4 linked regions of the Homo sapiens genome follow. The protein of the gene in region 1 interacts with the protein of each later gene in a pairwise test. Each region holds a gene or a part of one and is shown on either strand. Other genes may lie near its edges.

Region 1 (7,343 bases):
GCAGGAGAATCACTTGAACCCAGGAGGAAGAGGTTGCAGTGAGCCAAGATGGTACTACTGCACTCCAGCCTGGATGACAGAACAAGACTGCATCTCAAAAAAAAAAAAAAAATTAAAGGTGAAGAGATTCGGAGTACCCTGCACAGTGCGCGGGACAGTGGGGCACCAGTGACAGCTGTAGGGCCTGCAGAGGGGTAAGGACCTACCCGTCCCCGAAGTCCCAGCTGTAGAGAAACAAGGCGGTCTTGAGGAAGTTGCTCGGGTCGTGGAGGAGGAAGGAGACTTTCAGGACGGTCTTAGTGAGATAGGAGCTGGGCCAGGGTAGGGAAGTGTTCTGGGTGACAACAAGGTCCCCCACGAGGAACTCTGGGAGAGAGAGAGACACGGGAGGGTGAGTCTTGGAGATTCAGGGATCAGGAAACCAGGTAGAGACTTCATGGGCAGCTGTCAAAGCCACCACTTCCCTGCCCGGACCTTCTGGCTGTCAGAGCTAGGCAGGGAGAGGGGACACCCCCCTACAACTCCCCAAAGACCCCTGAACACAGAGGCATCTGCACCCTCCCCCTGCTGCATGAACACTGCTGAACACCGGAGGACTCTGTCACATTCACTGTTTTCTCTCCTGTCCCCTCTCACAAGGACCCTGAACTTTCTGGCACAAAAGATGCCCAAGGTCAGAAGGAAATGCATGGCTGGGTGCGGTGGCTCACACCTGTAATCCCAGCACTTTGGGAGGCCGAGGTTGGTGGATCACAAGGTCAAGAGTTCAAGACCAGCCTGGCCAAGATGGTGAAACCCCGTCACTACTAAAAACACAAAAATTAGCCAGGTGTGGTGGCACACACCTGTAGTCACAGCTATTTGGGAGGCTGAGGGAGGAGAATCGCTTGAACCTGGGAGGCGGAGGTTGCAGTGAGCCAAGATCGCGCCACTGCACTCCAGCCTGGGCGACAGAGCAAGACTCTGTCTCAAAAAAAAAAAAAAAAAAAAAAAGAAGAAGGAAATGCATAAGCTTTGAAAGGAACTTTTGAGAAATATTTCAGAATGTCAGGTGACCCTAGAAAAATTAGCAGTTCCAATGACCAGGCACGGTGGCTCACACCTATAATCCCAACACTTTGGGAGGCCAACACGGGCAGATCACGAGGTCAGGAGATCAAGACCAACCTGACTAACACAGTGAAACCCTGTCTCTATTAAAAATACAAAAACAAAATTAGCCAGGCATGGTAGCGGGCACCTGTAGTCCCAGCTACTTGGGAGGCTGAGGCGGGAGAATGGTGTGAATCCGGGAGGCAGAGCTTGCAGTGAGTCGAGATCGCGCCACTGCACTCCAGCCTGGGTGACAGAGCAAGACTCCGTCTCAAAAAGAAAAAAGAAAAATTAGCAGTTCCACTGATCACAGCTTCACACGTTGGGACCACTGTCCTATGTCTACTTCTCTAAAAAGAAAAAAAATTGGTGGGGCACGGTGGCTCACACCTGTAATCCCAGCACTTTGGGAGACTGAGGTGGGCAGATCACTTGAGGCCAGGAGTTTGAGACCAGCCTGGCCAACATAGCGAAACCCTGTCTCTACTAAAAATACAAAAATTAGCTGGGTGTGGTGGCCAGCACCTGTAGTCCCAGCTACTTGGGAGGCGAAGGCACGAGAATCGCTTGAACTGGGAGGTGGAGGTTGCAGTGAGCCAAGATCACAGCACCACTCCAGCCTGGGCAACAGAAGGAGACTCTGACTCAAAAATAGTAATAATAAATTAATTAAAATTAGTAAAAGTGGAAAGAAAAAGGCATGCTCAATAGAGCTCATTTGGAAAATGTTCAAACATAAAATAAGAAGAAAAGAAGCTAACTAACATTCACCTCAACCACTGTTGCCATTTTGAAGTATGACAAAGTATTTGCTTCAGTGTTTAATATACACATACATTAAATACAGATTATTGGGTTAGACAATTCTGTGCTTTGCTTTTTTAATATGTAATTTTACATGCATGTGTATTTACCCATGGCCTTACAAACTCATTGTAAGGGTCACTGTTAATAGTGGTATAAATGATTTTATTATATTTAGCCAATCTCCTCATGGTTGCTCACTTAGCTTGTTTATCTCTTCTTTTGCTATTATAAACACTATTGCAATGAACACCTTAATGCAAAAGGCATGACCCAAATGCAGGTTTATTTCCTGAAGATAAATTCATTATTAGACTGGAAAGTCTAAAGGGGCAAAGGGGCATCTTCTCTTGGAATGAGAGAGAGAGAGAGAGACAAAGAGACATAGAGACAGAGATAAAGAGACAGAGACAAAGAGACAGAGACAGAAAGAGACAAAGAGACAGAGAACAGAAAGAGCAAGATAGAAAGGGAAAACAGAGAGAGAAGGGACAGAGAGAGACAGAAAGAGACAGACAGAGATAGAACAGAGAGAAGGACAGAGAGAGACAGAAAAGAAAGGGGAGAAAGAGGGGAGAAAGAACCAGTGAATGACTGGCCCCAAGACTACAATAATTTCTTTTTTTTTTTTTTTTTTTTTTTTTTTTTGAGATGCAGTCTCACCCTGTCCCCGAGGCTGGAGTGCAGTGGCACGTTCTCGGCTCACTGCAACCTCTGCCCCCCAGGTTCAAGCGATTCTCCTGCTTCAGCCTCTTATACAGCTGGGATTATAGGTGCCCACCACCATGCCCCCACTAATTTTTGTATTTTTAGTGGAGACGGGGTTTTGTCATGCTGGCCAGATGGCTCTCAAACTCCTGATCTCAGGCGATCCACCTGCCTCGGCCTCCCGAAGTGCTGGGATTACAAGCGTGAGCCACCGCGCCCAGCTGAGACTACAATAATTTCTAACCAACAGTACCTATTGACCAGTCGCTCTCCACAGGGTTGTATTAATGTATACCCTCAGCAGCAATAGGCGTCCCTTTTAGCACAATACCTCCTGGGGGCAATCACTGCCATTTTCAGATCCTTTCTAACTCGACTGACCCGGGGAAGGAACCTACGGGCCTAATCCCCCAGAACCTACGGGCCTAATCTGCATTGATCTGATTCCTAGCGAAGCTTGATGTTTTTCTCTGCACCAAGGGTTTGAAGGCAAACTAGCAAATGGGAGCGACCCTCACCTGTGATGGGGAGGACCACAAAGCCCCTGGCCACAGGCTGGCACATCCAGCAGTCAGCGGCAGTGACCCAGACAGAGACCGGGAATTCCCCGGGCACGTGGCCGACCACACGGATGGTGGAGCTGAGACCCTTCTCCATCTTGCCAGTAAGCACCAGCGGGGTGTGGATCCAGTGGAAGCGGTAGAGGTGGGCGTCAGCGGGCAGGGCCAGGCTGCCGTTGTCCTTGGCCACCAGGCTGGCCGAGATGGTCACCACCGCTCCCGTGGTGGCAGGGCTATCGGTGGTGAGATTGAGTTCATACAGGCCTAGGAGCCCAGAAACAAAGACTGTGTTTCAGAATGGTGTGTGGCAAGGAGCCCCACAGCCACCTCTGGGCTGGCATCAACTATTCTATTTCCCAGGTGGAGAAACTGAGGCTCAGGCAGCTCAAGTGACTTGCCCAAGGGTCACTCAGCCAATTCGACATCAAACCTGGGTCCCACTGACTCCAAATCACAGTCTTTTCAGTCTTATTTCCCCTTCCTTCCTTCCCTCCCTCCCTCCCTCCTTCTTCCTTCCCTCCTTCCTCCTTCCCTCCTTCCTTCCTCCTTCCCTGCTTCTCTTTCTTTTCTTCCTTCCTTTCTTTTTCTTTCCTTTCCTTCCTTTCTCTTTTCTTTTCTCTCTCCTTCCTTCCTTCCTCTCTCCCTCCCTCCTCTCTTTTTTCTTTCTTTCTCTTCTTTCTTTTTTTCTCCCTTCCTTCCTTCCTTTTCTTTCTTCTTCCTTCTTTCTTTCTTCCTTTCTTCCTCTCTCTCTCTCTCTCACTCTCTCTCTCTCCCTTTCGTTCTCTGGATCTCACTCTGTAACCCAGACTGGAGTACAATCATCACAGTTCGCTGCAGCCTCCACCTTCTAGGATCAAGAGATCTTCCTGCCTCAGCCTCCCAAATAACTGAAACTATAGGCACACACCACCACACCCAGCTAATTTTTTATTTTTTGTAGAGATGGGGGTCTATGTTGCCCAGGCTGCCCAAATTATATTTTGTTTTTCCTGCCAGCCGGGCAGGGCCTTGGTTAGTGGCTACTCTTCTGGACAGGCCACACAGAGAACATTTCTACCATTCCCCAGAATTCTTTTGGTTTTGTTTTGAGACAAGATCTCCCTCTGTCATCCAGGCTGGGGTGTAGTGGCATGATCATAGCTCACTGCAGCCTCAAACTCCTGGGCTCAAGTGATCCTCCCACCTCAGCCTGCCAAGTAGCTGTGACTTGTAGGTCCAAGTCACCACGCTTGGCTGATTTTTTTCTTTTTTTTTTTTTTTTGTAGAGACAGGATCTCACTATGTTGCCCAGCCTGGTCTCGAACTCCTGGCTTCAACCACTCCTCCTGCCTTAGCCTCCCAAAGTGCTGGGATTACAGGCATGAGCCAGCGTCCTCAACCACATTGTCCAAAGATCTACTGGACAGTGCTGGTCTCATGCCTCTGGATTCCTCCTCTCCTCACTCCTCTCTCTCTGTCAGGGTTAAAGGATCCAGCTGTTGGCCAGGCATCATGGCTCATGCCTGTAACCCCAGCACTTTGGGAGGCCGAGGTAAGCGGATTACTTGAAGTCAGGAGTTCGAGACCAGCCTGGCCAACATGGTGAAACCCTGTCTCCACTAAAAATACAAAAAATTAGCTGGGTGTGGTGGTGCATGACTGTAATCCCAGCTACTCAGGAGGCTGAGGCAGGGGAATCGCTGGAACCCAAGAGGCAGAGATTGCAATGAGCCGACATCGAGCCACTGCATTCCAGCCTGGGCAACAAGAGTGAGACTCCGTCTCAAAAACAAAAGAAAACAAACAATAAAAACACTTCCCTGTACCTCTCACCCCCTCAGCTCTTTCCCGACAGCTGAGTCCACTGTTGTCACAACTCCATGTGGAAATGAAAGTTTCTTTGCCTTTCCTGCTATGCTTCAAACTCGTTTAGAGCAGGGGTCATTTCCATCATCCCTGTGACCAGCACAACGCTTGGCACATAGCAGGTGTTTGGTACTGCTGTTGCCAAGGGGCACCCGGAGAGCAGGTGCAGCAGAGGGACCAGCCCACCTGGCCCTGCCCCAGGAGACTGTTCACCCAGGTGGCACTGACTGAGTCCCTTCCATGGACCCCATCCCTACCGTGTTGGGAGGATCCAGAAATACAGAACAAGCCCCTCCCTGGAGGGACCTCACAGGAGACCTGCTGGGCTTTCAACAAGAAAGGCTGGCCAGGCGTGGTGGCTCACACCTGTAATTCCAGCACTTTGGGAGGCCGAGGCGGGCGGATCACCTGAGGTCAGGAGTTCCAGATCAGCCTGACCAACATGGAGAAACCCCCGTTTCTACTAAAAATACAAAATTAACCAGGTGTGGTGGCATGCGCCTGTAATCACAGCTACTCGGGAGACTGAGGCAGGAGAATTGCTTGAACCCGGAAGGCAGAGGTTGCAGTGAGCCAAGATTGCGCCACTGCACTCCAGCCTGGACGACAAGAGCGAAACTGTCTCAAAAAAATTTAAAAAAAGAAAGGCCAACTATTTGACCTTGTGGTTTTCAACTATTTCAACTATTTTACCTTGTTTTTCTTTCACAAATTTTCATTAGATCCCTTACCCTCTCTCTGCCACTCTATTATGAGGGGGGAGGGGGATGAAAACTGTTGGATAATATTCAACCCCGTTAGCTGCCCACGTCCCACCTGTCCCTCAACAAGTCTCCAATCTGGGTCCTTTTATGGTTCCCAAAATGTGGCAGAAAGGTGGGTGCTGGCCTTCTGGCGATGGGGATGTGGGGACAGTAGATGCACGACCGAGTGGGCACAAGGTCCCCCCACAAGTCCCCCCAGGAACCTGTCAGCTCCAGGTCCATTTTGGGAAATCACTCCTGGAAGAAATAGCAGCCTGGCCTCCTGGGCTCTAAAATTGCATCTCGGTCAGGCACGGTGGCTCATGCCTGTAATTCCAGCACTTTGGGAGGCCGAGGTGGGTGGATCACCTGAGGTCAGGCGTTTGAGACCGGCCTGGCCAACATGGCGAAACCCCGTCTCTACTAACAATACAAAATTAGCCGGGTGTGGTGGCGAACGCCTGTAATCTCAGCTACTCGGGAGGCTGAGGCCGGAGAATTACTTGAACCTGGGAGATGGTGGTTGCCGTGAGCCGAGATTGCGCCACTGCACTCCAGCCTGGGCAAAAAGAGCGAAATTCCATCTCAAATAAATAAATACATAAATCAAATAAAATCATATCTCCCCAAAGCCAGCACCAACAGGGTGGAAAACCCCTCTAGATGAGGCAACATTTTAAAGTAAAAATGCTGCCCATCCCGTGTTCCCTGGGGGCTGGGGGTTGTGGCACGATGACTGACCCTGATACATCCCCATGTCCCTGCCTCGTCCTCCCCTCCCTTAGCAGGTACATGGTCCCCAGACATCTGACGGATGCGTGGGCCACCCTCGTGTGGTTTCCAGGGCAGGGCCAGCCCGGGGAGTAGAAGCAGGAATCGAGGGGGCAAGGGAAGCCCCTTCTAGTGCCCAGGCAACTCTGAGATTATTTTTTTCAGACGCATCTCATTCACTTCAAAGCAACATCACCTGTCCCTGTGGGGGACTCCAGCTCCGACCTTTCCTCAGGCCCACCTCACACGTTCGCTGCTTTGGCCCACATCACGTATTTCCTTTTTTTTCAGAGCCATTTCTTAAATTATAAAGGCATTTGAGGCCGGGCCCAGTCAGCTCACACCTGTAATCACAGCGCTTTGAAGCCAGAGGGTCACTTGAGCCCAGGAGTTTTAGATCAGCCTGAACAACACAGCGACACCCATTCTCTACAAAAAAAAAAATTTAAAAATTAGCCAGGCATGGTAGCGTGCACCTGTTGCCCCAGCTACTTGGAAGGCTGAGGCAGGAGGATCTCTTGAGCCCAGGGGTTTGAAGTTGCAGTGAGCTATGATGGCGCCCCTGCCCTTCAGCCTGGGCAACAAAGTGAGAGACCCTTTCTACAAAAATAAATAAATAAAAATCAAGTCATTTGAGTCAAGATGCCGAGAGCTGGTCACTTCCAAGGGAATGCTGGCATTGAAAAGGGGACCTGCAGTGTCTTAACCCCAAAGAGGGAAATCCAGAAGCTGTGATGGGAGCTTTTCCACGCAAACAGAGTGGGTATATGATATTGAGGGACCTGAAGCCCGCATGGGTCACTGCTGCTGCCTGAGGCCA
Region 2 (7,343 bases), on another chromosome or scaffold:
GTTAGAGAGGAGGGAGGGGGTGACTAGGCAGAGCATAGAGGATTCTTAGGGCAGTGAAACTACTCTATATGATACTATAATGGTGGATACAAGTCATTACGCATTTGTCAAAACCCATAGAATGCACAACATCAAGAGTAAACCCTAATGTACACTATGAACCTTGGGTGATGATATATGTCAATGCAGGTCTCATCATTTGTAACAAATACAGCGCTCTGGTGAGAGATGTTGATAAAGGGGGAGACTATGCATGTATTGGAGGAGAGGTACATGGGAAGTCTCTATAGCCTCTTCTCAATTATGTGAGCCTAAAACTGCTCTTTAATAAAGTCTATTTTTAATGGCAGGACATGGTGGCTCTTGCCAGTAATCTCAGCACTTTCAGAGGCCAAGGTGGGAGGATGGCTTGAGGCCAGGAGTTCAAGACCAGACTGAGCAACATAGCAAGACCCCATCCCTGTAGTCTCAGCTACTAGAGAGGAGGATCACTTGAGCACAGGAGGTGGAGTCTGCAGTGAGCCACAATCGTGCCACTGCACTCCAGCCTGGGCGACAGAGTAAGACCATATTTCAAAAAAAAATATATATATATATATGTTTTAAAAATATTTTTTAAAATATATTTTTTGAGATAGGGTCTTACTCTATTATATATTAATATATAATATATATTATATATTTATATATTAATATATAATATATATTTATATATAATATATATTATATATTTATATTACATATATTTATATGTTAATATATATTTTATATATTTATATATTTTATATATTTATATATTATATATTTATATATTATATTTATATATTATATATTTATATTATATATTTATATATTATATTTATATATTATATATTTATATTATATATTTATATATTGTATATTTATATTATATATTTATATATTGTATTTATATATTATATATTTATATACTATATATATTTATATATATTATATATTTATATATTATATATATTTATATATATTATATATTTATATATTATATATATTTATATATATTATATATTTATATATTATATATATTTATATATATTATATATATTTATATATATTATATATTTATATATAATATATATTATATATTTTATCTATATATTTATATATTAATATATATTATATATTTATATATATTATATATATTTATATATATATTTTTTAAATAGGCAGGGCACAGTGGCTTATGCCTGTAATTCCAGCACTTTGGGAGGCCAAGGCAGGCAGATCACTTGAGGTCAGGAGTTCAAGACCAGCCTGGCCAACATGGTGAAACCTCATCTCTACTAAAAATACTAAAATTGGCTGGACATGGTGGCAGGTGCCTGTAATCTCAGCTATTTGGGAGGCTGAGGCAGTATAATCACTTGAACCCGGGAGGCAGAGGTTGCAGTGAGCCAAGATTGCGCCATTGCACTCCAGCCTGGGTGACAGAGCAAGACTCTGTCTCAAAAAAATAAAAAAATAAAATAAAAATAGTACTATAGGAAAGAACAAAAAACTATAAAAGTTATCTAAAACAATGATAGAAAGTAGATTTTAAAAACGAATAAATAGAACTTATTGAAATGAAAAATATAATCATTAAAAACGTAGCAGGTTTATTACATCCGAAGAGAGAATTAATGAATAGGAAGGTAGACCTGCAGAAATTACCTAGAAAGCACCCGAGAGAGGTAAGAAGATGGGAAATATAAGAGATTCAAAGACACGGAGGAACTTCATGGAGAAAATCGGGGAGGGGCAATATTTGTAGAGATATTGGCTGAAAAAGTCTCAGAACTGATGACAAAGACATGAAACTTCAGACAAGGAACCACAGTGACTCCCAGGATAAAGAAAACTAAATCCTTGGTCCTTTACGATGAAACTTTATTGGAGGACATGTAAGAAGACCTGAAGACAATGGAAAGCTCTAGTTTGCTCATGAGTGGGCAAGGTCAACATTGTAGAGATGTCAGTTTTCCTCAGGTTAATTTATAAATTCAGAGCAATGCCAGTCAGAATCTTTCTTCCGGGATTTTGAGAAGCTGACTTAAAATTTTAAATGGAAGAGTAAAGGAGCATGAATAACTAAGATAAATTTGAAAGCAACTGACTTTCCACTTGGAAAAATAAAATAAAATTAGTTTTCTCTCATCACTCAATATATACAAAATAAAACACCAGATCTATCTGGAAGAACAAAATTGTGAAATAAATTTTAAAAATATAGAAGAGGCTAGGCGTAGCGGTTCGTGCCTGTAATCCCAGCACTTTGGGAGGCCAAGGTGGGAGGATTGCTTGAGCCCAGAAGTTTGAGACCAGCCAGAGAAACCTAGTGAGACCCTGTCTCTACAAAAACTAAAAAATGAGCTGAGCACCATGGCACACACCTATAGTTCCAGCTATTTAGCAGGCTGAGGCAGAAGGATCCCTTAAGCCCAGGAGTTCAAGGCTGCAATGAGCTGTGATCATGCCACTGCACTCCCACCTAGGTGACAGAGTGAGACCCTGTCTCACACATATATATTTATAGTGTTTGCTTTGTAAGTGTCCTCAGTTGAGAAGCAAAATCTATAAATTTGACCACTTGAAGACTTTAAAATTTTGCATAAAAAAGGTACTATATGTATGATTAAAAAAATAAAGCAACAGATTGAGAAGATATTTTCCCTAAGTAACAAAAGTAGAGTGTAGACATTACTTGCTCATGCTCAGAAGTGAAACATCCTGGGTTGGAGTCCTGGCCACCTCCCAGCTGTGTGATCTTGGGTAAGTTACAGTGTCTCTCTGTGCACCATTTCCCCATCTTTAAAATGGAGTGGGGATTAGCCGGGTGCGGTGGCTCACACCTGTAATCTCAGCACTTTGGGAGGCCAAGGCGGGTGGATCACAAGGTCAGGAATTTGAGACCAGCCTGGCCAACATGGTGAAACTCCGTCTCTAATAAAGATACAAAAAATTAGCTGGGTGTGGTGGCATGCGCCTGTAATCCCAGCTACTTGGGAGGCCGAGGCAGGAGAATCGTTTGAACCCGGGAGGCAGAGGTTGCAGTGTGCTGAGATCACACCATTGCACTCCAGCCTGGGTGACAGGGCGAGACTCCATCTCAAAAATAAATAAATAAAAATAAAGTGAGGATTGTAATAGTACCTCTAAACACAGTCAGGACAGTGCCTGGCACATAGGAACTCATTAATAAAAGTTAGTTGCTATTTAAATAACACTGGCCACATGCAGTGTTTCACCTCTGTCATCTCAGCACTTGGGGAGGCCGAGGTGGGTGGATCACTTGACGCCAGGAGTTTGAGACCAGCCTGGCCAATATGGTGAAACCCTGTCTCTACTAAAAATACAAAGATTAGCTGCGCGTGGTGGCAGACACCTGTAATCCCAGCTACTTGGGAAGCTGAGGCAGGAGAATGGCTTGAACCCAGGAGGTGGAGGTTGCAGTGAGCCAATTTCACACCACTGCACTCCAGCCTGGGCGTCAGAGCAAGACTCTACCTCAAAAAATAAAGAAATAAATAACACCCACAAATACTTAAGAAAACGGCAAATAGCCAAATAGTGTTTATCAGACTCCTAAGTAGACAGCTCAATTAGCAACCTTCAGCTCCATCTGTGGGCCAAGCGGCGTGCTCTTAACTCAAGAAGTGTCCGGCAGGTCTGATTCTGACTGGAGGGATGTTCTGCTCCATGAGGGCCCACAGGGAAAACTGTGGGTTCAACACTAATCTCTCAAGAGGATGTTAGATCCCAAAGCTGCAGCGGTGTTTTTTGTTTGTTTGTTTTTTGAGACGGAGTTTCGCTCTTGTTGCCCAGGCTGGAGTGCGATGGTGCGATCTTAGCTCACGGCAACCTCCGCTTCCCAGGCTCAAGCAATTCTCCGGCCTCAGCCTCCCGAGTAGGGGGGTTACAGGCACCCACCACCATGCCCGGCTAATTTTTGTATTTTTAGTAGAGACGGAGTTTCACCATGTTGGCCAGGCTGGTCTCCAACTCCTGACCTCAGGTGATCCGCCCGCCTCTGCCACCCAAAGTGTTGGGATTACAGACGTGAGCCACTGCGCCCAGCTGTGTGTTTTTATTCTCAGATTCTTTTCTTGAAATACTGGAGGAGGAGTCAGAGTCTGGGTTACTCTGGGCTCACTAGATCTGTGACCTCACTCAGCCCCACGTGCTCCTCATCCCTAGACGGGTTGGACAAGGGGACCTCTAAAATTCTCTTTCTAACTAGGTCTTCCATAATGTCCATGGAATTTATACGGGGGAGCGTGACATCTTAAGGACACTTTTTTGAAATAAAATATGGCATTTCTAATGTTTCTAGAAATAGGGGCAAAGATACAGCCCTGACCCCTTTGTTCACGAGGCTGGTGTCACAAGAGAGATGTCCTAGATGACACTGTGGGGCAAAAGGGCAGTATGAGCAGAAGCAAGTCCTGGGTCTCCACAAGCACACACGGCTCCTTCCGGGTCTGCCCGAGGGCCTGTAGATCCCTGGCCACCCCTGCTTCTAACCCCTGAGACCCTGCCTAGGTCCCCAAACACTGTCAATGTCTGATCTTCTTTTCTGACCCCATTAGAAAATAAAAATGACCGGCCAGGCGCAGTGGCTCACGCCTGTAATCCCAGCACTCTGGGGGGCTGAGGCGGGTGGGTCACCTGAGGTCAGGAGTTTGAGACCAGCTTGACCAACATGGTGAAACTCCGTCTCTACTAGAAATACATTAGCTGGGTATGGTGGTATACATCTGTGATCCCAGGATCAGGAGGCTGAGGCAGGAGAATCGCTTGAACCTGGGAGGCGGAGGTTGCGGTGAGCCAAGATCGCGCCACTGCATTCCAGCCTGGCTGACAGAGCAAGACTCCATCTCAAAAATTAAAAAAAAAAAAAAAAAAAAAAAGAAAGAAAAAAGAAAAATGACCACAGTGGTTATTATCTTAGTCTCATGGTAAGGATTTCAGTTGTAGGCCTGTATTTTAGCTCTGATGGGGGTCTATGAGTTTCAGGGAATTAAAAATTCACCTTCCCTTACCTGCCAAATTTATTCACCAAGGGGCCGACCAGGAGGGATCCGATAAACCCTCCAAATGGAAACATGGACACGGTTACAGACCACAGCAACGTCAAGGGGAAGTCTTCCATGAATTCACCGGTCCTACCATAGTAAGTCTCATTGTAAAATTGTTGCATGAGCTAGGAGACAAAGCAAAACAGAACACCAAAATAATTTGATCCGGTTTTGCAAGAAGAACATTAGCTGTTAGGACACCCAATGAAATAACCTGGGCACACAGAGACCAACCTTATTAACCGGGGGGTGATGGGAGGCAGGACAGAGCTTCAGGAGCAGTGAGAAGGGTGGGCACCCACCGGGAGGGCTGGGAAGCCTCTCAGCAGCAAACCACCCTGGGTGTTTCTCAGCCAGAAAGGGATGACTCCAATTTTCCAATCAGCTGGGAGACCCCTGGCCCCCCCGGATTCCCTCTAAACAGCAAGGCCACAGAAGATCTGAGCCCCCTCCTAGAGCCCGGCCCACTGTGTGTCCATCCAGACCTGGCCCATCCCAAGAGACCTGTGTCTGCGAGTTCCCTCGGGTCTGTGCTGTGTCCGGAGGGTGTTTCCCTCTCCCTTTGCTTCAGGACCCACTGCGTGAACAGCCCCACGCTGGCCAGTCCCACCCAGGCAATGGGCTGCTCCAAACGTCCTCCCCACATCTTGCTCACCACAGTGACCTACCAGTGCTGGGGAGTTGACAGCAGCCACGTTGTACCCATACTGGAAGGATGACCCAAAGGCAGCTATCAGGGTTGCCAGGGCAAGCACAAGCGTCAGCCTCTGCAGAGATCACAGCTTAGGTCAGGAAGCAGCCCCAGGGTTCCAGGGCCCTCCCGCTTTACTTCGGTTTCGTAGAAAGATGTAACAGAATCTGAAGATCCATAGTCTTGAGACTACTCCATTCCTTGAAACCTACCCTCAACCCACCTTGGGTTACAGGCTTTCTCAACCATGGCACTTTTGACACTTGGGGTCTGATAATTCTTTGTTATGGGGGCTGTCCTGAGCACAGCAGGATGTTTACAGCATCCTGTGAACATGGTGCCAGTAGCACCCCTCTCCCCAGCTGCGACAACCCAAATGTCTTCCAACATTGTTAAGTGTCCCCTGGTGGGGAAGTGCTCCATTTGAGAACCACTGGATCAGAGAGAAGCTGAAACCTACTTCTCTAACACTGCAGCTACTGCAGCTGTTTGAATTGCTCCTGTGACATTCCTGCCACGTGGGGCATTTGCCAACTGCAGCAAATGTGCTCTTGCACCATCTCAAACATAAACTCCCAGAAAATCAAAGAGAAAAAGAGAAAATTTTAGCTATTTTGGCCACTGAAAATTTCCTTTCAGACAATCTTTAATGACAAGAGGAAATTCATTAGTAATGAAGAGCAGGAGACAGACATGGAAAGAGCTGCGGGCTTAAAATCTACAGGCCTCAGTTTTGAATCTACCTGTTGCCACTTTTCAGCTTAATTTCTAGGATCTTCAGTTTCTTCATCTCTGAAATGAGGACAATCACACTCCCTACCAGAGTGTTTGCCAGGATTAATTACGACCATGTCTAGCTGCAGAGGTGAATCTGCTGTTGGAGAGAGCTTGGGACGCTGCTCTCTGACTTGCCATCAAAGGACCTTCTTCCATCTACTCTGATGGACAGCCGCCTTTCTTTCTTTTTTTTTTTTTTTTTTTTTTTTGACACAGAGTCTTGCTCTGTCACCCAGGCTGGAGTGCAGTGGCGCAATCTCGGCTCACTGCAAGCTCCGCCTCCTGGGTTCACGCCATTCTCCTGCCTTAGCCTCCCAAATAGCTGGGACTACAGGCACCCGCCACCACGCCTGGCTAATTTTTTGTATTTTTTAGTAGAGACGGGGTTTCACTGTGTTAGCCAGGATGGTCTCAATCTCCTGACCTCGTGATCTGCCTGCCTTGGCCTCCCAAAGTACTGGGATTACAGGCGTGAGCCACCACGCCTGGCCAGAGAGCCCCCTTTCACAGGTAACACAGGTTCATGCTTGGCCCTCCAGTGACAAGACAAGCACTATCCCACGGTATCTAAATCTACAGAGAATCTTTTTTTTTTTTTTTTTTCTGAGACATTTCTTGCCCTGGCTGGAGTGCTGTGGTGCTATTATAGCTCACTGTGACCTCAACCTCCTGGGCTCAAGTGATCCTCCCACCTCAGCCTCCCGAGTAGCTGAGACTACAGGTGCATGCCATCATGCCTGGCTAATTAAAAAATATATTTTTATAGAGACAGGGGTCTCATT
Region 3 (7,227 bases), on another chromosome or scaffold:
TTTGGAACTGCAATAGAAATAACTATAGCAGAAACAACCATTTAAGAAGTTTTAGCAGCAATAAGTATTTATTATTCTGAATGAAATGTACAGTTGACTTTTATATAAAAATCATCAAAAGTGCTATATTGGATTATTTTACTATTAATTTAACCCCCAACAGCATCTATTAGCTATAACTTTAATGGGTTTTTCTTTACTTCTGATACATCATTACAACTGGCTAACACTGTCCAATGTTAAAATATAAAAAATATTACTTTTCAAGATAAAGTACCACCAGTGATGAGTTATTAAAAGTATAAAATGAAAACAGACGCCAGTGAATCAATGTATTGAAAAAAATTATCACAGAATTTCATAGACATATGCGAAACCCAAGGTAATTTAGATCCTTGGCAGAACATTTTTATGATACATCTTAAGACTGTAGGTTATTTCTTTTGGAGGCAAATGTCTAGTGTGCCAGGCCTATCTTGATTTTTCTCATCTTTTCTTGGCTACTTTACAGGGTGAACCAAATACTGTCTAATGCTGTGCACTCCCATGACCCCCAAAGTGTTTCATGTAAATAGAAAGCTGATTTTTCAGTCTCAGAAGTAGCCCTTAGGGTTAAGTTTGTCGTTAAAGAAGACATGAGTCATTCCTCACAAAGGAGAAGCCCCTCCACCCTCCCACCCCCATTCTTCCAGTCTGCTCCAACGCCAAGTCTGTTCTCTCCCACCATGGTTCTGGGTGAATTGGGTGACAAAGTCAGAGCACGTTTTCCAGGCCCAATGGCCCATTTGGTCGTATTCAGTCTCAAGCAAACAAGCTTCTCTGATTTGCCACGAGAGCTGTTTGACTCTCCCGTCTCTTGGCTTTCTTGCTCCTTTGTCTCACTTTCCAGCACAAGGCACTGGAGGCTAGTAAAAAAAGTCCAGATGACAGAACAACCAGGCCAAAGATGGAGATAATAGACCCATGGGAATTGAAGCTGTAAGCCACCGCGGTGACCACGATGCCGGCGATGAAGACAACCACAGCAAAGGGGATGATGCAGCGGTAGCAGGAGAGCTCGGTACCCCCTGTAGCAGCCATCAACTGAATCTCACTGACCAGAGGGACTGTGGTGATCACAACTTCACTCTTGGGGCTCTTCTCCATCGTCGCTGCCATGTGAGCCTTTGGGGCTCCCAGGATCTCCTTGATGGGCTCTTCAGTCATTTTTACAACAGTGCTTCTAAGCTGGGTTTACAGACTAGATCTGGACAGTCTCACCAGGGTGAAAGCTGTGAAGATAACAGGAGATGTCAGCTACATGTATCAGAATGTACACCCTGTAAGCAGAAATGAAAAGCTGGGGAGGCACCTCCTTTCTAGGAGGCACAGATCCATGTGAAAAGCAACTTTACTCTTTTTTTGAATTGGTTGCATTCTCTTTGCATTTAGGCAAAAAATAAGATGAAGCAGATGCATATGAAGGGAAGACAGAAAAAGCAGGAAGCACTTACAGTGTTTAATATACCCTGGCGGTCTACAAAAGTTTTACAAGCTTTTCTGCTTTGTCTATTGCTTCTCCTTCCTCTGAATACACAGAAATGCCTGAATCCTAATCCAAAGATGGTCTCATTCAAGAGGAGAATACATTACAAACAATATTTCGTACCATTAATCCCAGAACTTACAGCAACTCAGACTCCGCCAATCTTGCTGGGCATAACATGCATTCTTTGCAAACTATCACCCATTGGCTGCCCACAAAATCAATGTCAAGGCAAGTGGCCAGCAACAAATGATGTTCTTCTCCATTGAATGACAGCCAACAAATCTTTATTGTGTTACTATTAAACACAGTGCAACCTGCTCCCTGGGATCTTTTTATTACCCACTTTAGGTGGACAGTTCAGCAAAAAATTCATTGAAAATGAGGTGGGGATTTGTGGTCTGAAGTGTAACAATATCTTCCAATCTGCTATAAAAGAGAAAAAATAAGAAAAAAAAATTCAACCCCTTCATAGGATATAATTTTGTGCTTTCTCTTGGCAAAATAAAATCAATTATTTGAGTAATTAGCTGTCAATTCACAAATTTTCTATTAAGCTCAACACAAAATTTCGATATTATGTATACTACAACATGCAGAAACAAATAAGCATGCTAGGTTTTCAGGAAACTTTCACAACCTTCATTTTCCTCCATGCCTTTGTGTATAAAACTTGCTGCAATGACCCTTTCTAAGTATTTCGTACCTGAACATTTCAGGACAAAGCTTGAGACTTTTGATCAAAAGTATCTGGTTGAAATGCTGTCTATGAGAAATCAGTGAAAACTTGTCTGCTGCTCAGACATGGTTGAGTCACTGTCTTCCATTCTCAAAAAGCTGTCTAGCTGCTACACAGTTGAGCAGTTGTAGTTACCGAACAAGTTTAAAGAAAGATACTTGAGACCATTTCAATGAGATTCATACTTTAAATATATTAAGCATCCACTGAAAACAAATTCAACTCCAAATCAAACCTCACTGGTTCTTCCCTGCTCTGGAAAGTCAAAATATCACTCCCTGAGCAATGAAACTAAATCTTAGAGCTGCCTACTCACATGTCATTTTTAATCACCAAACTAATTAATCACTGTTGTCCAATGACACCCTAACTTCTGGTGAGGCCAGTTAAAAGATATTTGAGATTATGTCTGAAAAAAATAACTTCACCCCAAAGCTGAGATTGAGCTAACCTGAAAATCAAGATCTGTCCCCAAATTACTTACACTCACCTCGGAGAGAGGCAATCCATTACCAGAGTAACCACTTGACTTGGAAGACAAGAAACAGCAACGCCTGAGCCTCTTCGTCCAACTTCTGGGAAAGAGCCTCTAACAGCAAGGCTGTCAATAAAACAATAGGTTAGGGATCTCTTCTGGGGAAAGGAAAAGATGTAAAAATACTTTACTATAGGGTCTGCTCTGGTTTGGGATCCTGGAGTTCCTGCTTCTTTCAGGCTACCTCTGTTCCTAAATGACGCTTGTCTTTCCCTCCCTCTCTCTTTTTATTCCCTCCCCCTCGGGTTTGCCCCTCCCTAACATTTTTTTTTTTCCTTCGTTCTTTTCCTTGCCAGCAGATTCTGAGTTTTGGCTTCCCCCAGCTTTGCTCAGTGACATGATGAGTCCGAATCATTTCTACAGATTCCCCAGAGACAGGAGCCAGCTTTTACTTTTTCTCTTGCAGCATTTACTAAGCGGACTGCTTTGTGAATTTGAATGACTCATTTTTTCCCCCGCCGACCTCCAGATCTTCCTCCCGTCCATCAGGCATTTTTATAAGAAAATCCCAGAGTCAGCGTTGCAGACCCGGCTGAGGGGACAGAGCCGAGGGGACAGATACTCTAGGGTGGCAGAAACAGCTGTGAAGTCATCAGGCAGCTGAATTCAGTCTCTAAGCCAGCAAAAATCCATGTTCCTAGGTTTTCCATTATTCTTTATATGTGCGTGATAGTCATCTGAAGCTTAAAACCCCACTTGTTGAGTGTTAATTCATTTAGGAATGAGGGTGGGAGGCACAAATGTTTGTGGTTAAGGGGGAAAGCCAGTTATATTGATTTAAACATGATTGTTTACTGCTTTTGCAAGGAGGTAACTTTAGCAGCACCAAGATTATCATCATCATGATAATTGCTACCATTTATAGAGCACCTACTGTGGACATGGCACAATATTAAGAAATGTCACATATTAATGTTAATTCTCACTAGTTCATAAATGAGGAAACAGGCTCAGAGAGGTTAAGTAATTTAACAAAGATCACCCAGTAACAGAGACACCCTTGGTTTGAACCCTAATCTTTAATGGATATATATATCATTTGGGGAGATTGTTAAATTTAGATTCTGATTCAGTAAGTCTGTAACAAGCTCCCTACCTATGTTGAGACCTCTGTTCCTTGGCCCACTTTAAGGATCAAGGTATTTTAAACATTCAAACATATACAACTTGACACATCATACTTAAACAATAAAGTTAAACATCTATTTCCCACCCCATAAACCTGTAAGTGACTTTATAGGTTTATGCTTTCTTACAGACAAACTGTGAAATTTTTAAAACCTTGAAACATATAAAGCCCAAGATTGTCTTTTTGAGGAGAAAAGATAATACTGGGAGCTCATCCTACACTCTGTAGTTAAAAGTTTACATCCTCCATTTTTTCATCTGCACAAGTGTTAATAACCTCTTCTAATTAATACTGTGAACCACAAATCCAAATTAACTCTTGGAAGAGATTTGTTTTCCATCTTTCTCTCAAATTGTTAGATTTCTCTAATAGCTGGCAAAGGGCTTGGATGTTCTCAAACATCTCGCCTCTCCTCTACCACAGCACACTCTCTCCAGCCTTGCCTTGTAGCAATACCCTGATGACTTGTCACAAAAAGAGAGGGACCAGAAGTTGTTTATTCTGGAATGAAAGCCAGAGAGAGGGTTATGTCCTTATAAAAAATAAAGTTGAAAAGTCCCTGAGGTTGGGGGAGTCATGGCAAGTACCTGGAGGCCTTGGTCACCATGATCCTCACACTTTAAAAATGTCAGACCTAAAGAGACAGCTTTCATATCTGAGGAGTACCGTCACTTGGTGTTGAGGGTCAGGAATACTTAGAACCAGGGCATTTCAGAACTTGCCAAAGTTGCCCCCGGAAGATGGTAAGATGGGGGCCGCTGGCTACGTACAATGGAGGTTCTTGAGAAGCTCCTTAACAGAGCTGTCTTCTCACCTGCAAACTCTGGCCCTTGAGGGCAATTCCCCTCTATTTTCTAGTACCACTTTGCCTGCAAGATAGCCCAATAACTGCACTGAAGCTCTGAATATCACCTTATTCTGTTGAAAAGCATGCTTTCCTGTTACCAAAGCTAAAGGTGCAAACATTGAACGTCTAGAGAGAGGACAATGGCAGCTTTTTTCATAGTAAGCCCTTGACTGAGTCTATAATGAGGCGCAGTGAGTGTGTCTGTGTCCTAGGAGCACAAATCTGTCATCACTTCCAATACCAAAGCTTTCTTCAACCTTGTCAGGCTCAGGTGCCTCATTCACACCAATGCTCCTCCACAGGGTGTGTGCACCTGCCTTGATACACAGGTACACATCTCTAGACTCTGAGTAGACAACCAATGATTTGTATTTTAAATTCAAAGAGGTAGAAAGTTTTGGTATAAAGCAGACATTGTATCAGAAGAATAGAAGCCTGTCATCCTAACCACTGACACATGCAGCTTTAACTGACTTTACCTCTTCAAATTGAAATTCAAAGAGAATTCCTAGTGATCTATGCCTGTTGTTTCTGAATGTTTATTCCTCCTTCCACTCTGTGTCTACAAAGTATTAAACACCCCTGGGCATCCTTTGGGGACACCTGCCCCCAAATGCAAAATTTCATCCACAATGCAACCAGCCTTATTTCTGCGAGCCCTCTATTTTCACAAAGAAGAGGAAATCTCTCTAGTTCTTTCTAAAGCACATGGCTTTAGGAGACTCCTTTAAGTTTGGAGAACTTTTCTCAAAGCCTCCAATGCATGAATTATATCTATGCCCCTAACCCCCATAGACATTCAACATTTCCTTCCCAGATCTTTCAAAAAGCAAAGCAAAGATCCTTACCTTTCCCAGCCAGAGTTAGACTGAGACAGCTGCCTGCCCTGCCAAGAGCAACCCAGACAGGGGGATGCAAATCACCACATTAGGGACCGTAAACAAAGTACTCAGCAAGGCTTAAACACAATTAAGGGACCGGAGACAATTTGGCAAGAGGAAATCCCTTAAATGCTGCTGGATTTTACTCTGTTGTCCTCCATGAAAATGTAACCCATATATATGTGTGTGTGTGTGTGTGTGTGTGTGTGTGTGTGTGTGTGTGTGTGTGTATACAGACAGAGACAGAGAGAAAGGGCATCAAGTTTGAGAAGAATATCTTCCTTCACTTTTCTCTTTTTATATCTTTATTCAGGCACTAATTTGCAAGGTTTTTCCTATCCAAAGCCCCCATTCTGATGCTCTCCCTCTGTGAATCAGAACCTGCAGAAAAGAATTCGTAATCTTTGCTCTACATTTCTAAGGGAGTATGGGGTTGGAAAGTGTGTATGTAGGGGAATGGGACCATAAACCATCCTCTTTCCCAATAACATGCAGGTAATAAAAGGAGTACAAGGAAGATTAGGATTAGTGGTGAGAATGGCATTTGGTGCCTGAGTGGACCCTCTCCCTAATGTCAGAGGAGTGGTCCTATTGGTGCTCTTCATTGGAGGATGTCAAGGCACCATAGAAATTATGTTATACTGAAAAATCACACCTCCGAGGTGACCTTCCACCAAAGGCATTGTAAACGGCAGAGCTGGGAACATTTGCTGTTCCAGAGAGAATGCCCCAAATTGCAAAAATCTCATTTTTTTTTCTTTAGAAACAAAATGAAAGACAAAGTTACTTAGGGGAGAGGGGTCTGGGAGTGGAGGAGGGCAGGGAGCATGGTGTGTACTATGACAAAGAGGTCATTTTGCCCATTTCCCTAAAGTGGAAGCCAAAGATTCAGGCTCTAAGGTTGCAAAAGGGGATGTTTTGATTTTCCTATTGAGTTTGTGCTGTTGAAGACCTGGCAATTTCTCCTCTGGGAACACATGAAGTTCGCATTTTGTGAAGCATGCCCCCATGTGCATTTGATTACTCGCCTGTCTTTATTTCCAATTTGCTTTTGCTTGGTGTGTTTGAGCTGGCTAATTTCCAGCAGCCTTGAGGATGCCAGTTCCTCTTGGCCTTCTGTCCAATCACCACATGCCTTTGATCTCAGTCATCACCCAGTCCAATTGGATGCAGGGAGATTTGGGAAGCTGGCCAGGTTTTCTCCTCTCTAATGCTTCTTTTAAGGGTGTGCCTGCATTTATGTTCTGAAATCATGGACATTTTGGAAAGTGATCTGTGCTTCTGTGTTCATTTTGGATAGCAGGTCATGTTATTATTCCTCCTTTTCTTTTTTTCTCCTCCAAAACACTTTTCTTTGAGGTCTAGGACATTAAATAGAGAGATCTGATAGTACCAAGAGGAACAATGAATGTGCCTTAGATATAAATCTGTATTTTACTAATTGGTGGTCAATTTCTAGGTATGGGAATCTCATAAGATCCATTTGAATATAGAAAGGGAAACATACATCTTTTAGATTCACATTACAATCCCCATTCTCTTACCCCATTTTGTTCTGAGTAACTATGAAA
Region 4 (7,343 bases), on another chromosome or scaffold:
TGGCCTGGCCCATCTCCTCTGTAAGCCTTCTGTGATTAACTGCATGTAGCTCTGAGCACTCCACGGACAGCACAGTCCCACTGAATGTTCCAGAAGGGAGTGTAGCCATCTCCTGTGACCCTTCATTCTACAAATGAGGGAGCTGCGTGGGTATCAGGGAGGCCAAGTAACTTGCTCAAGGTCACAAGGCTGTTGAATGGTAGAGCTGCAGCTAGAAATTAGCTTTTCTGACTTACAGGTCACACTTGTTTCTGTTACACCACAATGCTACCCTCTGACAAAGCCTGCTATTTATCTGGGCTCCTTTCTCTGTAACCTTGTTTGTGCTCTTTTGTCTCTTTGGGGCATGTGTCTTTTGGGTTCATGCTCTTCTGTCTCTCTTGTGAACTCTGTGTGATAGACATCTTTCCCTTCTAGGGTTCCACACATAATGCAAACTGTGGCCCTCAAAAGGGCTAAAATAGGTGGTGCTACTTGGCTTTACTGAATTTATTTTTATTTTTAATCCTGGTGATTGGTGAGAACCTGGCTCACACATAATCTTTAGAAGCTGTGATTTTAAGGAAGAAGTGAAGTTACTCACTGTTGAGTGGAAGGTGATGAGTGTCCCATTGCCTTTTCCCCTGTCTTTAAGGTAATCATTGTAAGCCTCTTCATACATGGTCTGAACATGTCGGATAGCCTGAAGAAATACAAGGAAAAATGAAGGACTTCTGGGTGGGAAGTTTCAAACATTCTCCTTTCATCAAGGAAAATCTCCTCTTCCACACCTTTGAAAAACACTGCCTTTCTCATAAGAATGATACAATGGACTTTGGGGACTCAGGGGAAAGGGTAGGAGTGAGGTGAGGGATAAAAGACTGCACATTGGGTACAGTGTACACTGCTCGGGTGATGGGTGCACCAAAATCTCAGAAATCCCCACTAGAGAACTTACTCATGTAACCAAACACCACCTGTTCCCCACAAAACCTGTAGAAATAAAAAAAAATACTGCCTTTCCATAGGTATTTTAGGATAATTCAGCAACATATGGAGAAGATTATAGTTTCTGGAGTTTCTAAGATGCTTTTGAGGATGGAAGGACAGACTAACCAGAACAGTTTTCATGGACTAGAAAGATTTCTGACAGTTCCCAAGCCCAACTGGGCTTCAGCATCAACTGGGCCCCAGATTCCTGGGCTCCATCCAGATGATTTGGATGCATAGCTAGGATCCGGACTTATACATTCCTGTTACCCCATTGGTTAAAAGCATTCAAATCTTTTTATGACGTGGTTTAAAAGGTATTCATCACCAAGGAAAACTTTCTACATTCAGATATCATATAAAGCTTAGAGAATGCTTTTTCTAGTATAAAAGCTTGTGATTTCAAATCCACAGATATCTCAACAGGTCCTAAGATTCCATTCTACTTCTGTATGTAGCTGAATTTAAACTAACCTATGAACACAGCCAGTTACTTTAGAAAAATTCAAAAGGAGGTGACATTTACTATTCTACATGTTTACTGTTTTATAGTCTAAAATAAGTTCAGAAACATAATATTAATGACACAAGAGTTAATGTGAAATACACCAAACTTAAGTTTCCATTCTTCCTCCTTTTCCATTCCATTCTCTTCTATCCCACAGTGTGTTTTACAGAGGAAGAAAGGCTACTTCCTCTGTGTGTCCCCCCGATAACCTATTCTGGACACCTAGAGTTGGGCAGCAAATATAAACTGGCTTCACTAGCCCACAGCAGTGTAGGCTCTGCTCTTTGAGAATGAAATGGACCCATCCAGGCCAATCCTTAAGGACAAATGGCAGTCTGACAGGGGATGAGAATCTAGATTCTTTCTCAAGTCTGTACTCTAACTGTTACCCCATTTCACAATGGGGAAGAATCTTAAATTAGAGATCCTTTTTTTTTTGGTTTTATTATAGACCACTTCATAAGTCTAATGGAAGAGATGAACTATCTCCCCAGAAAAATGTGAGCATGTATATATGCCTGCACACTCATATACATATATGCTCAGTTCTGCACACCACTTCTAAGTTAAAAAGTTCTGTTTAAACTATAATAATGGGGATTATTTGGTTTCTTAACACTATTGTGGGTATCAATATTCTAACACTTTTAACCATCATAGAAAAACATTATAAGTAATTTTACTTACTACCCCCTTGCCTATAAAAGCAAATACTCCAGTGGTTACTTCAGCAGCAAATATCACCAGGAGGCAGGTAAAAAACTGTAGAGGAGAGAAAATACTAATTTCATTAATTTAATACCTTTTCAATTTATATATTTTGCACCTTAGTTTCCTTATGTAATGGCTGAATCGCTTTCATGTGGTTCATTCATTCATTCATTCATTCAGCAATTGTTTATTAGGCATTTATTCTGCACCAGGTACTGTCCTTGGTGCTGACTATTCAGTGGTGAACAAGATAATATCCAAATGTCTCTGTTATCACGGACCTTGGATTGGACAGAGGAATATACGATAACTGTGTAAAGAAGTTAAAAAGTGAATAAGATAAGTTCAGGTAGTGATGTAAAAATCCCACCACCTAGAACACCACCTGGCACCTACGTGCTTAGTAAATACTTGACGAACACAAAAGACCTAGAAAGATATAAAATAAGGTCAGGAGAGGGAGCATCACTGATGCGGCCTGGGCATGGGGAAGGGGGTGACTGGAGATTCTGTGGTCTGGAAAGGCTTCTTTGAGGAGATGAGGTGAGGGGTGTCCTTCTGGATGGATTTCTGTTCTGGTCTATGGATTTGCTCTGATCAAACTAAGTTCAGTGATAAACAAGACAGAAATGTGCTCAACAGTAGGAGAAAGAGAAGGAATGAATGGCAAAGAAATAAGTCAGACATTTCACATAGCAAGAGATCAGAGGCTACGGCCAGAGTTAAAAATCCAAATATCACAATAAGTAATGAGAGATGAGAGGCTGCCTATTAAAACTGCTGTTTCTGACTCCCTGTGGAGAAATATCAACACTTTCTCTCCTCCTGCCCCTCTTCTTCCTTTCTGTTTCTCTCAGGCTACACTGACATAGAATGTATAGCAGTTAATTGAAATTATTTGATTTTTGTTTTAAACAGAGGTTGCTTGTTAAAATAAGCCACAAGAGGGATTTTGGTTAAGTTATTGATCTCAAACATAAATGTTTTCCTTGTAGATAACAGCACTTCCCTGGCTATAGAAACCTTTTAGCTGCCTCACCCACTGTGAAATATTTTTTTTTAAAGAACAATCATAGTCACCCCTTACAATTACTAAGTACTTTTACTCCCAAAACATCTTTACACCAATGACGTCATTTCTTTTCACACTTCCCATATAAGGCAGGAACAAAGATAATATTTTTTTTCTTTTTTCTTTTTTCAAGACAAGGTTTTGCTCTGTCGCCCAGGTTGGAGTGCAGTGGTACAGTCATGGCTCACTGCAGCCTCCCAACTCCTGGTCTTAAGTGATCCTCCTGCCTCAGCCTCCTGAGTAGCTGGGACCACAGGTGTGTGCCATCACACCCGGTAGAGACTAGGTCTCCCTGTGTTGCCCAAGCTAGTCTTAAACTCCTGGGCTCCAGAGATCCTCCTGCCTCAGCCTCCCAAAGTGCTGGGATTACAGGCGTGAGTCATGGCACCCGGCCCTAGTTAGTATTATTCATATATAAGAGATGGAGAAACCAAGACTGAGGGAGGAAAAGTGCATGCCAAGGGCTCAGAGAGTCCACGGAGGAGCTGGAGCCAGGGGCCAGAGGCACTGACTCCCTTCAGATGCAGGCCGCTCCCTCACCCCCACCCCACCATTTACCCCCTCGCCCCACTTACTGATCCAAGCACACATTGCGACTCCCGCATGGCTCCGCAGCACCCGAAGAACCCCACGGCCATCATCAGGGCCCCGGCTCCAACCAGAACATACAGCCCTGTGGGGAAGAGGTCAGAGGAGACCACTGAGAGCCAACCGAGTGCCTCCACGACCAACTAGGCTTAAGACTCTGGGCACTGCAGAGCATTCTAATAGTACCAAAAGGAGGTGCTATTCTTACTGCCATGTTTGACACGGAGGAACTGGGCCCCAAAAGGTAAAGCGATTTGCTTAAGGTCATAGAGCTGGTGTTTGGCAGAGCCGGGAGAAAAATAGCCATGAGCCTCAAAAGCCTGCCCAACACTCCGACTCTGTCTTGCATCTCTAGTGATGGAGGCAGCCATCATTCAGGTGGGGATTTCACTTACTGCTTAGGCAAGCCCCACGTACAGTTCTTACAGAGAAAGAAAAGGACAGAAATGCTCTGGTTCTGAGAGAACTAAAGCCAAGCCTTTTTGTATTTCCTTCTCTGATCCTGAGATAAGTTAGAATACAATATGGGACTTGGCACTTGTCTTACTTGGAATCATGTTAATGGTCTCTATTTCATTTTTTGCATTTTACTCATATGAGTCACCTGGAAACCACTCCCATTAATAGGGAGGGTGGGGGCTGGTGCCCCGCCTCTGTGGGGAACCCCTGGGCCTGGCATTCAGGGTGCTTCCTGGGGCGCCTCTGGGTTGCTGATGGTGGTTTGCGGGCAGATCTGGCAGTTTACAGACCTAGTAGGAGCCACAGGCGAGGCTGCTCTGCTTCCTGCCCCACCCGGACCTGGCCTCAGCGTTCTTTTCAGGGCCCTGAGGCCTTGCTGCTCTGCAGTCCTGAGGTGGGTATTTATTTCCTGCTGTTCTAGCTCTACCACCTCCTCCCTTTCCCTTTTCTCTAAAAGAATAATTTCATGAGGGAATGGATGTGGTAATGTGAGAAATGATATCATATTAAAAATAATAGTGTTGTTGGCCCCACTACCTCAACACTTTATTGTTTTAAAAATGTCTTTCACCAAAGGTCTAATATCCAGAATCTGTAAGGAACTTAAACAAATCAACAAGCAAAAGGCAAATAACTCCATTAAAAAGTGGGCAAAAGACATAAACAGACAATTCTCCAAAGAAGACATGCAAGCGAGCAACAAACATGAAATAATGCTCGTCATCTCTAATCATCAGAGAAATGCAAATCAAAACCACAATGAGATACCATCTCATACCAGTCAGAATGGCTTTTGTTAAAAAGTCAAAAATAACAGATGTTGGCAAGGCTGGGAGTAAAGGGGACACTTTATACAATGTTGCGAATGTAAATCAGTACAGCCACTGCAGAAGGCAGTTTGGAGATGACTCAAACAACTGAGTTGAACTACCACTCGACCCGGCAATCCCATTGCTGGGTAAATACCTAAAGGAAAATAAGTCATTCTGTCAAAAGGGTACATGTTCACTGCAGCACTATTCACAACGGCAAAGGTATGGAATCAACCCAGGTGCCCATCAATGGTAGATAGGATAAAGAAAATGTGGTACATATACACCATGGAATACTATGCAGCCATAAAAAAGAACAAAATCATGCCCTTTGCAGCAACATGAATGCAGCTGGAGGCCATTATCCTAAGCAAACTATCACAGGAACAGAACATCAAATACCGCATGTTCTCACTTATAAGTAGGAGCTAAATATTGGGTACACATGGACATAAAGATGGGAATGATAGATACTGGGGACTACTAGAGGGGCACAGGTGTTGAAAAACTAACTATTGGATACTATATTCATTACCTCAGTGACAGGTTCAGTCATACCCCCAATCTCGGCATCACTCAATGTACCTTTGTAACAAACCTGCCCATGTACCCCCTGATTCTAAAATGAAAGTTGAAAAAGAAAAAAAAAAGTCATTCACTGTGTTGCAATGTTTTCAAAGCTCTCACTTCCATCATCTTATTGGCTTCTCAAAACAACGTGGTTAGGTAAGCAAGGACTATTATTTCTGTTTTACAAATGGAGGTCTGAGAGTCAAGATGGCTGTAGGCAGGATGCCCTGGCCTGCAGCCCCAATTCCCATCCCACACTTCTATTTGACCACCCCACAGAAGCGAGCTGAATGCAGGGCGGCAGCAACAACACCATATTCAGTTCCTTCATGGAATGTCTCCTGGTGGACCCCCTTGCTGCAGAACATGCCCATTGCCTCTCATTGCTACTGCCACAATTGCTACATGATGCCGTTTGCAGATCTATCATGAAGTCACAGCCTACAGAACAGTTTCCCCCAAAATCTTTATCCATCCTATGCTCCAGCCACCTGGGAATTCACCATGATCTGGCTGTGTCCTGCTCTTTTCCATTTTGTGCTTTTGCAGGTTCTCATATTAGTCTCTCATTATAGATTTCAAGTTGACAAACCTTATTCATCCTCTCTAGAACATGCCCTGCACAAGGCAGAATTCTTAGTCAGTGTGCATTGGATTAGTAGATAAGACAGAGAAAATCAAATCAGTTCCAGGCTTGCTGGCTGTCATCACCCATCTTTGCTTAGAGATATATGCTGGAAACAGGTCTCAGCAAACATCCACAAAGCAACTACATAGCTGTGCTCTCCAAAGCCAAGCACATGAGGATGGTTGCTTCGCACCCCGAGACACCCTGGAATATGTGAAAGAGGGAGGCTCGTGAGGAGGCAGGAGGCTCACTGGACAGGGGCACAGAGGTTTGAGGAGGCCAGAGTTGTTCCCCACTGTAAATGAAACTGTCTGCTCCCTCAGGCAACAATCCTTATCCTTCTGAAATAATGAGCTTTTCAGGAAAGTGTGCTTTTTTGAACAATATTTCATTCTTAGGCTATCAGAATCCCAGAGCTCACGGCAAAAACAACCTGAAGCTGCCCTAGCAGCTTCAACTTTGAGGCCACTTCTCAGCCAGCCTCTGTTTTGTATGTGTGGGCCCGTGACTCAGCCCAGCTCCAAATGAACATTGCTTGCTGAAGCTGAAGGGAAAAGCAGAAGAAATTCTACAAGAGGAAAGGTTCCCTGGGCGTGCCGGATCCAGTTCCAAATCTGGCTCTAATACTCCGCATGCCATAAGGCCACCTGTGGCTTCCAAGGATACTTTATCCTTCTTATGGTCTGACCCTCAAAAAATAGCTGCTGAATGTAATAATTAATTTACAGCCACATTTTAAATTCCAAGATGGTTACTGTAGAGCCTTCTCCTTCCCACAGGAGCAGGTGTGACAAACATACGACCTACTTCCCAAAGCCCTCATGCTTTCCGAGTCCTATTGCCTTTGATTTGAAAAATAGAAAACATTTTGAAATTACATTTTCATCATGAATAGCTGGCCTTTGGGATGCCAGTGATCTCTGTGACATGCTACCACAAGTACTTTCCCTGGGACACCTTCATTTTTAAAAATTTAAAAAGTATTTAAAATTATTTATTAATATCTTACTGATACATAATAGTTGT

Evidence for each region.
Region 2: the proteins of TMEM130 (region 1) and SLC2A5 interact in binary tests that used the Homo sapiens proteins (3 or more experiments, as listed by UniProt).
Region 3: the proteins of TMEM130 (region 1) and TMEM100 interact in binary tests that used the Homo sapiens proteins (3 or more experiments, as listed by UniProt).
Region 4: the proteins of TMEM130 (region 1) and TSPAN2 interact in binary tests that used the Homo sapiens proteins (3 or more experiments, as listed by UniProt).

Annotation. Positions count from the first base shown.
Region 1 is NC_000007.14:98,859,973-98,867,315, forward strand, and holds part of TMEM130 (transmembrane protein 130 isoform b precursor), read right to left. Parts: intron 3,429-7,343; coding exon 3,123-3,428; intron 367-3,122; coding exon 207-366; intron 1-206.
Region 2 is NC_000001.11:9,052,391-9,059,733, forward strand, and holds part of SLC2A5 (solute carrier family 2, facilitated glucose transporter member 5), read right to left. Parts: intron 5,861-7,343; coding exon 5,762-5,860; intron 5,219-5,761; coding exon 5,058-5,218; intron 1-5,057. UniProt on the Homo sapiens protein: Functions as a fructose transporter that has only low activity with other monosaccharides. Can mediate the uptake of 2-deoxyglucose, but with low efficiency. Essential for fructose uptake in the small intestine.
Region 3 is NC_000017.11:55,719,865-55,727,091, forward strand, and holds the start of TMEM100 (transmembrane protein 100), read right to left. Parts: upstream 3,001-7,227; 5' UTR 2,755-3,000; exon of another isoform or gene 2,749-2,754; intron 1,272-2,748; 5' UTR 1,207-1,271; coding exon 802-1,206; 3' UTR 1-801. UniProt on the Homo sapiens protein: Plays a role during embryonic arterial endothelium differentiation and vascular morphogenesis through the ACVRL1 receptor-dependent signaling pathway upon stimulation by bone morphogenetic proteins, such as GDF2/BMP9 and BMP10.
Region 4 is NC_000001.11:115,058,300-115,065,642, forward strand, and holds part of TSPAN2 (tetraspanin-2), read right to left. Parts: intron 3,934-7,343; coding exon 3,836-3,933; intron 2,240-3,835; coding exon 2,165-2,239; intron 683-2,164; coding exon 584-682; intron 1-583. UniProt on the Homo sapiens protein: May play a role in signalling in oligodendrocytes in the early stages of their terminal differentiation into myelin-forming glia and may also function in stabilizing the mature sheath.